Regions from separate parts of the Homo sapiens genome. Here region 1 is linked to region 2. A link means that fine-mapping ties the variant in region 2 to the expression of a gene that starts in the linked region. Tissue or cell type: whole blood. Region 2 holds a variant in brackets; the other region holds the start of a gene. Each region is shown on its reference strand, or each on the opposite one.

Region 1 (4,386 bases), not on the chromosome of region 2:
AGGCCAGGATCCTGAGCCTGAGTTGGGATGTCCTGGGTCCTGGAGTTCAGGGAGGGAGGGTGCTGGGCACAGGGAGGGGACTCCGGAGGCTGGGGAGGCTGGGTGCACACCTGGCAGGCGTCCTTGTGGCCCTGGGGGTAGCCGGCACACAGACTCCCAGGCAGCACAATGCGCTCAGCCTGGGGCACGTCCGCGCCCACGTGGTAGAGGCCGTCGCAGGTGCGCGAGTCCAGCAGCGGCACCCTTACTCCTTGTAGCGGTCGCCACTCTGGGAGGGGCACTGGGGGAAGAGGAGGGACCTCTGAGAGGAAGGCGTGGAGCGGGGGCCAGTGGGAGAAGCTGAGCTCTGAGTGAGAGGAGGTTTTGTTCCCTAGAAGCCGCGCTGGGTCCTGGATTGGGGCAGTGAGGGGCTGGGATTTCCAGTCAGATGGAGGAGGACGTGGGGGCTCCCGGATGCCTCGGAGCCCCGCCCTCCTGCCTTACCTCCTGGGCGGAGGCTGCCCCAGCCGGTGACCCGGCATGGTGTGCCGGGCGGCGGGCGGGCGCCGGGCACGGGCAGGCAGACGGGTTGGACGCGAGCGCTCAGGGGCACCGGGCGACGCAGCTGCAGCAGTGCCAGGTCGCCGCGGGCCCCGTCCTCGGAGTAGTCCGGGGGCAGCAGCACCCGTCGCACGGGCACCGAGAGCGTGCGGGGCGAGGTGGAGCCCAGACGCAGCGCCCCCAGGCGCACGCGGTACTCAGCTGGCAGTGCCCTCCTGCAGGACAGGAGCGGGGGACTACTTCCAGCACCGGGTCCTCGACCCCCTCCAGCCCGCCTCGACCCCAACGCCTCTGCCAGGCCACGCCCGGTCCTCTGCGGGCCTTGCCTTCCTTGCACACCCCGCCTGGGCCCTCGGTGAGCGCTGACCTGGGGAAGCAGTGCGCCGCTGTCAGCACCCACTGGGGGGCGATGAGCGACCCCCCGCACACGTGTGCCCCACGATGCTGGATGCTCGCCTGCCACGGCCACTCTCCGTCCCGGCCATCCCGGCCCCCAACGATCCGACTGGACATGCGGGGCTGCCCGCAGGCTAGAAAAGGACCAGGGGCGGTGAGGGTTGGCTGAGGACCTGGGGCCTGGGAGGCAGGTGTTGGTGGGGAGACACGGGGCCGAGGTCCAGGAGGGGCTGACTCGGGTGGACTCCGAGGCTTCCTCACCTGCAGACTTCCTTCCCTGAGTCCCAGCAGCTCCTGGAGGAGGAAGCAGGGAAGGGACCAGATTATAGATTTGGTGTCAAATAACGGAGTTGGAGGGGAGGCCAGAGATGAGGAAGGAGGGTGAAACAATGTTGCCCTGACATTGCGCCAGGCTTTCGTGCCGTCTGTTATCTTATTTAACCCTCCCCAGAGCACTGTGAAGGTGCAGGGGGCAAGGGCGTATGAGCATGACACCGACAAGCACATCGAGGTGTGGTGAGGTCAAGGTCAGTGGCAGAGAGGATTGAGCCCTTGGAATCAAGATTAGAAAGCCCAAGAGTGCTCCAGGGAGCCCGGCCCAGGGAGCAGTGAGATGGGAGAACTGGGAGCCAAGGTGTCTGCGGCCCTCACCCCCAGTCCCTGTCCCCACTCACCCAGCACCAGAAGGAGCAGGACCTGGAGACAGGAAACCCCTCTCATTCTGTCTTCAAGGCTGGGCTGGGTAAGGGTGGCACTGCCTAGGGCTTGGACTCTGGTCTGGAGCCAGCAGGGAGAAGAGAGGAGAGTCCTGGCCCAGGGGCACCAATCCTCACACCAGCCCGTCACCCCCTCCGTGGTCCTTCTGTCTGTCCTCAGCTCCTGGTGGGTTCTGGACTTATCCTGGTGGCCCAGGCTGTATACCCTTCGTTCTGCCCAGGGCCCAGGTATGCAGCACCCACCACCCAGATATTTGGGCATCCTTGGTCTCGACAGAAGCCCTGGAGCCTAACCCCCCTCGGTCATCCTCACTCCCTCCCTCATCCCCCTCCCCCATCCTCACCCCCTCCCTCATCCTCACCCCCTCCCTCATCCTCACTCCCTCCTCCATCCTCACCCCCCTCCTCCTCACTCCCCTCCCTTATCCTCACCCCTTCCCTCATCCTCATCCCTCTCTCATCCTCACCCCCTCCCTCATCCTCACCTCCTCCTCTATCCTCACCCCGTCCTCCATCGTCACCCCTGCTCCTCCTCACTCCCCTCCCTCATCCTCACCCCCTCCCTCATCCTCACCTCTCATCCTCACCCCTCTCTCATCCTCACCCCTCCCTCATCCTCACCCCTCCTCTATCCTCACCCCCTCCTCCATCCTCAGCCCCCTCCTCCTCACTCCCCTCCCTCATCCTCACCCCCTCCCTCATCCTCACCCCTGTCTCATCCTCACCCCCTCCCTCATCCTTCACCCCCTCCCTCATCCTCACTCCTCTCTCATCACCCCTCCTCCATCCTTCACCCCCCCATCGTCACCCCCTCCCTCATCCTCACCCCCTCCTCTATCCTCACCCCCTTCCTCCTCACTCCCCTCCCTCATCTTCACCACTTCCCTCATCCTCACCCCCTCCCCCATCCTTCACCCCTCCTCGTCCTCACCCTCATCCTCACCCACTGGCTGCCCCTGCAGCCCCCACAGCCCCTGGCTTGCTCTCACCCTCACAGCCTGGCGCCTTCTGCTGACTGGGGTTGAGGGAGGGCCTGGGGGCTTAAAGTGCCAGGAGAGCGCGAGGCTCAGCCAAGGAGTAATGAACAGGGCCGGGGCGGGGCTGTGGCTTTACCGGACCAGCCTCAAACAAAGATGCTTTGAGCAGAGCTTCAGAGGTGGCAGGAAAGGGTCAATGGGTTTCTCAAAGGAAGCCTGCCTTGCGCCAAGGTACTAGAAGTGGGGGCTGGCGGAGAGCAGTGGTGCGGGTAGGTGCTGGGAGGGGTGGCAGTCAGGTGGGGAAGCTCTGCAGGATCCGGGGCAACTCCTCTCCAAACCTGACCTGGGCTCCCTGCAGAGCACACGTTGCTGGAGCTTCTGCGCTCCATTGTTCTGTCCAGAAATCCCATCTCAGACGGAAGTCCTGGCCAGACAGCTCCACCCAGAGACCCCAGCATGGCCAGCCCCCTTCCAGATCCGGGGTCTGGAGCAGCTGGAGGTGGAAAGGGACTGGTTCAAAGTTGGTGGCACTCCTTACTTGACCAGAGGCAGGGGGAGACTTGACCTTGGGGACCAGTGCAGTCTTTGGTTTGGGGTGGCCGAGACAGAGCAAGATGCTGGGGTCAGGGGACAGGAACTCCCCTTCTCTCGAGGCCCGTGGAGGACCGGGGCCCGGATGGTCCAGGGCCCTGTAGTTCCCTCTTGGGCTCATACACAGTGTTCGCTGCCTAGAAGTCTCTCAAGTCCCTCTCTGCATAGTGAACTCCTCTTATCCCTCAGCCTTCTGCTCTGCCACCTCCTCCTGCCTCCTTTGCAGCCCTGCCATAGTTGTACTTTTTTCCTTTTTTTTTTTTTTGTTTTTCTTTCTTTTTTTTTTTAAAGAGACAGGGTCTTGGCCAAGCATGGTGGCTCATGCCTGTAATCCCTGCATTTTGGGAAGCCGAGATGGGTGGCTCATTTGAGGTCAGGGGTTTGAGACGAGCCTGGCCAACATGGTGAAACCTCGTCTCTACTAAAAATACAAAAATTAGCCAGGCCTGATGGTGGGCGCCTGCAATCTCAGCTACTCGGGAGGCTGAGGCACAGGAATTGCTTGAACCCGGGAGGTGGAAGTTGCAGTGAGCCGAGATTATGCCACTGCACTCCAGCCTGGGCGACGCAGTGAGATTCTGTCTCAAAAAAAAATAAAAAGGGAGAGAGAGACAGGGTCTTGCTCTGTCACCCAGGCTGGAGTGCAGTGGTACAATCACAACTCCCTGCGTCCTTGACCTCTGGGCTCAAGTGATCCTGCCACCTCAGCTTCCCAAGTAGTTGGGACCACAGGTGCATGCCACAGCACCTAGCAATTTTTTTTTCCAGAGATGGGGTCTTGCAATGATGCCCAACTTGTTCTCGAACTCCTGGGCTCAAGAGATCCTCTTGCTGTAGTCTCCCAAAGTGCTGGGGTTATAGGCATGTGCCACCGAGGCCAGCCCATAGTTGTCCTTTGACAGGGACTTGAGGAGGTTTGATTTACATCCTCTTGTCTCCCCTCCAGCATCAGGGTCTGGGTCTGTGTCCCTGTAGGAGTCCGCTTGGGCTGCCATAAACAAAAACCACAGCCGAAGGGGCTTTCTTTTTTTTTTTCTGAGACAGAGTCTTGCTCTGTCTCCAGGCTGGAGTGCGGTGGCGTGATCTCGGCTCACTGCAACCTCCACCTCCCGGGTTCAAGCTATTCTCCTGCCTCAGCCTCCTGAGTAGCAGGGATTTACAGGTGC
Region 2 (4,386 bases):
GGGGGACTACTGCATAGAAAAAATGTTTCCCAAATTTGTTATAAGTTGAAATGACTGTGAAATATTGGATATGCAACTGTTAACTCTGTATTTCAGCCTTAATTCCATCTCCTTTGTCAAATATAACTTGATTTGAAACCAAAATTTAGTGTCATAGTCACTGAATAAGTTACATTTGTTTTCTTCATTTTTTTTCTTCCTGTAGGTTTACCTTTTTGAGATTGGGTGCAGTTTTCCAAAATACTTTTTCTAATACTCTTCCAAAGATCTCAACCTTCCTTTACAGTTTGAACTCCTGTTTGTATTGCTTGCTTCCCTAATGGAAATCTGAATTTTTATAATTCCTGTGTATTTCTTTTTTGCATTGCCTTAACAGGCATGGGTCTTCGAAAGCCCTGGAGCTCCCTGTGTGGCCCCTGCCATTGGTATGCTGTGATGCTTTGCCTGTCCTGTGCTCAGGTTTATTCATGATGGATAAGACTCCCTTCCTATCACATGTGCACTGTTCTAGCAAAGAGAATAGACAAATTCTTTTCAGTTGTGATGTTGCCCAGGGTTTTGTTTTGTTTTTTTCCCTTTAAGGAAAAGAATGTCAGTGGTGTATATCAGAAAAGACTGTTTACACCCTTTCTATCCCTTGCCTTTCAAACCAGGCAGGATTCAGTACACTTTTAAACTCCCCCAGAATATGAAAAAAGATCCCTTTTCAGCTTTCCAGAAATTTTTTAAAATGTAGAAGAATGTAGGAAATTGCCAAATCAGTTAGTTAATCAGTGACAACTGCAGTCAGTACACGAAGAGCACGCTTCTTACAAGAGCAGCTAGCTGTTTGCTGCTTTCTCAGCCCCTCTGCATGCTTGCCCTTGCCTCACCTCTGCATCCTCCTCCAGAGGTTCAGTGTCAGCCTTATAGGAGCTGGTGATTGCCACGGGGTCCCCAGACAGAGCATGGCCACAGGGCAGCTCCTTCCTTCCCTTCCTTCTGTTCCACCCTCACTTTTTGTAGGCTTGACATCACCTGGAGCTTCTGTGTGTCAAGTCAGTAGCTTGAAATAAGTCTAGAATAAGTGGGAAAATCTTTCCTAATGGTGATTTTTTTAAAATCAGGCTAATAAACATGGTGTTACTAGCCTTTATACACCACCCTGGGCTTTACAAAACCCAGGATATTTTATAATATTAAGCAAGATACATACTAGCAATCAGCAAATTTTGTAAAATATACATTACTCTTCCATAAGTCTGCACTGTAAGCATTCTTGCCAGGTGGGTTGAAATACATTTCTGAAATTTAATTTTTTTCCTATCCAAAATAAATTACTTAAAAAGTTTTCATTTACTTATTTCTAGACCTGTCTCTTCATTTGATTTTCTTCTCTACCATATTACAATTAATTAGGATAACATTCAAAAGATATGAGACCTGGTGCAGTGGCTCATACCTGTAACCCCAGCACTTTAAGAGGCTGAGGCAGGAGGATTCCCTGAGCCTAGGAGTTCAAGACCAGTTTGGGCAACATAGTGAGACTTTGTTTCCCAGGAAAAAAAAAAAATTAGCTGGGTGTGGTGGTACACAACTATAGTCCCAACTACTTGGGAGCCCGCACTGGGAGGATTACTTGAGCCCAGGAGTTGGGAGACTGCAGTGAGCTATGATTGTGCCACTGCACTCCAGCTTGGGTGACAGAGCGAGACCCTGTCTCTTAAAAAAAAAAAAAAGATATGGGATAGATACACATATTTTATGTAGCTACATATGTGATCTACACCTAGGTATGGTATATATAGATACATGTTTGTCTTCATTTCTCTTTTGCCATACAATGTTGAGTACTTCAGGTGCTATTAGAATGTGTGCCCATCTGTTCCTAGGACATGTTGTGTACATGGAATGAAGACCCTGCTGGACATATTTTCTTAGTGTCTGCACTGCGGCAGCAGGTCAGCTGTCTCCACGTTAGGGTCAAGGTGCTGGCCACCTTCTCAGTGGGCTTAGCCTTTAGGAGTTAGCTTCAGAGAGGTATTTGAATTTTGAATTGCAGGGTGTAAAGGACACAAATTTTCATGATCCTTGTGCTTTTGTGGCATAATTTATGTATGGGGTAATATACTCCTTTTGACCACTTTGGAAAAAGCTAGTGCTGTGGGCATGCACTTAGTATAAGCTGTTAGCCAAGTGCTATTTCATTAGTTGCCTTGAAAGGAAACGTTAGCCTCAATACTGCATGAAGGAACAAAAGAACAGCTTTTTTTTTTTAT[C/CA]ATAAAGGCTACTCAGAATATCCAGAGTCTTCAAAGTTATGTAGAAATAACTGAAAGATTTCTGCAAGAAACCTGTGAAATAGTATGTTATGTAACATAGCATTAGATATTAATGTTAACTGCATTTTTTTGACTTGCACAAATGATTGGCAAACAGATGGGCATATCTTTAAAATTAAACCATCTTTAGATACCCACTCCTTGTAAACTGTTACAGATTAAATTTGTCACTAAGGGCTGTTCATAATTCTTTGAATGAAGTCAGTATTGTTTATTTGTCAGACACAAATGTCAAGACTACTTTCTTTAAGTGACATATCTTTGTATTGCTTTATAATATTCTTTGTAACATGTGCCATTTGTTGTTGATCCATTATATTAACTGAGTGGTCAGTGTGCTATCCTGTAGGAGGAGCTCAGAGTCTGAGGGCAGGACTTCCCAAACTTTCACATGCACAGGAATCACTTGGGGCCTTTGTTAATAAAGGCAGATTCTGGTGCAGGAGGTCTGAGGTGAGCCTGAGAGTCTGCGTCTCTTACCAGCTCCCGGGGGTGCCAGGGGTCCTGTCTCTCAGGATTCCACTTCACATGGCAAGGCTCCAGTCGCCAGAAAGAGAGGGAGGTGAACACATAAGAATAGTAGCGTGCTTGGCACTTTTGTAGCTTCTGCCCATGTTGATGTGGTGGTACTGCTAGCAAGGGCTTTGAAATCAGCCTGAAGAGGGAGGGTTGAGGGTCAGGAAGCTTCCGAAGATGGGTGATAACAAAGGAACTGAGATGAAAAAGAGGCCAGCCTCTACAGTGAGGGGATAAGGAGGCCAGGGAAGAGACCATGGGTGTGAAGGCGAGGAAGGTATGAGATAGCTGATGGATGGTTGGTAAACTTTGAGTAGTTTGATATACCTAATGGGGGTGTTTGTGAGTGCTTCAGGGGATAGAGGGAAGGGAGTTAAGGGAGTTGAGAATGGACAGGTCAATAAGGATTTGATTATTAGTGCCTTCAAGCATGCTGGAGCATTTGGACTGGAACCTGAAAGCTATGGGAGGTCCTTTAAGGATTTTAATCAGGGAGAGGTATGATGTAATCTGTGTTTTATAAGATCATTCAATCAGTAGTGTGAAAGCGTTGAGACCAGAATTAGGAGAACTGATTAGATTTCTAATTTTTTGTGGTTCACTAAACCATGAAGGTCTGATTACTTCAGAGCTAGTGTAAACAGGGAGGAGGAGTTAGACCCATAAATATCTGGGAGAGAGCATTAGCAGGTTGGGAAATGCACTGAATATGTGGGATGTACTGGGGCGTTTATTCAAACTGCAAGCTGCACGAGGACAGGGCCACATCTGCTTCGTTCAACACTGTATACACAGTGTCTGTTAACCTTGAATATTTTTTAAATGAATGATGACAGGAAGGATCTAGGCTTATTTCCCATTGTTTGGCTAGGTTGAAGAGGTGGATGGAGATGGTGTTACTGTCATAGCGAATGCTAACATAAGGCGTAGCGTTGCCCTATACGATGTCAGTGGTTTTCCTTATTAAAAATGTGTCTCTTCTGTTAATATCAGCAAAATGGGAGGTAACCTAGTAATATGAATGGAGGTTACCAGTACAATCCTTATTACTATTTATGGTTTTATTTTTAATATGATGCTTGGGGACAAACAGACCTTAGAAGGACTTCACATACTTCTTTTTTTTCTAAATCTTTTTCTGAATTGTGTATAGTTGAGAATTATTCCTAACATACTGAAAATTATTTATGAAGAAATAAGAATATATGTTGGGAGATAATACAGAAAGGAGACATAGGTTGTAAGTATAGTTAACATAAAATATGATATATGGAAAAAATAACATATATTTCATCCCAAAGGGTAGATATGGACCTTTAAAAGAATACTAATCTCTGAAAGAGGAGAAAATATTTTTTATGAAAGAGGATTGCTGCTATTTAATATGGTCTTTGTTTAAACATGTTACCTCTAAGAAGAAATACATAGGAGTGCTTTCCATGTAATTTTCTGCAGTGATGGAAATGTTCATTATAGGCACTGTCGAGTAGGTAGCCACCAACCACATGTGGCTTTTGAGCACTTGAATGTGGCTTGTGCGACTAAGGAACTG

What was found. PIP is the estimated chance that this variant, and not a neighbour inherited with it, causes the effect. A credible set is the group of variants that fine-mapping cannot tell apart.
Region 1: PRSS33 starts here. The variant in region 2 is the best candidate, but not a certain one, in a credible set for the expression of PRSS33 in whole blood (TOPMed, PIP 0.53).

What each region holds. Positions count from the first base shown.
Region 1 is chr16:2,784,892-2,789,277 of GRCh38, forward strand. PRSS33 (serine protease 33) reads right to left here and starts at 2,669. Exons shown (of 7, transcript NM_152891.3): 1 at 2,642-2,669; 2 at 1,611-1,713; 3 at 1,198-1,230; 4 at 908-1,070; 5 at 484-755; 6 at 111-280. The coding sequence starts at 1,656.
Region 2 is chr8:60,731,534-60,735,919 of GRCh38, forward strand. All of the region lies in intron 1 of CHD7 (chromodomain helicase DNA binding protein 7), which reads left to right. Among named protein-coding and RNA genes, the nearest start is that of CHD7, 55 kb to the left of the region's middle. The variant C/CA (reference allele first, on the strand shown) is at 2,259.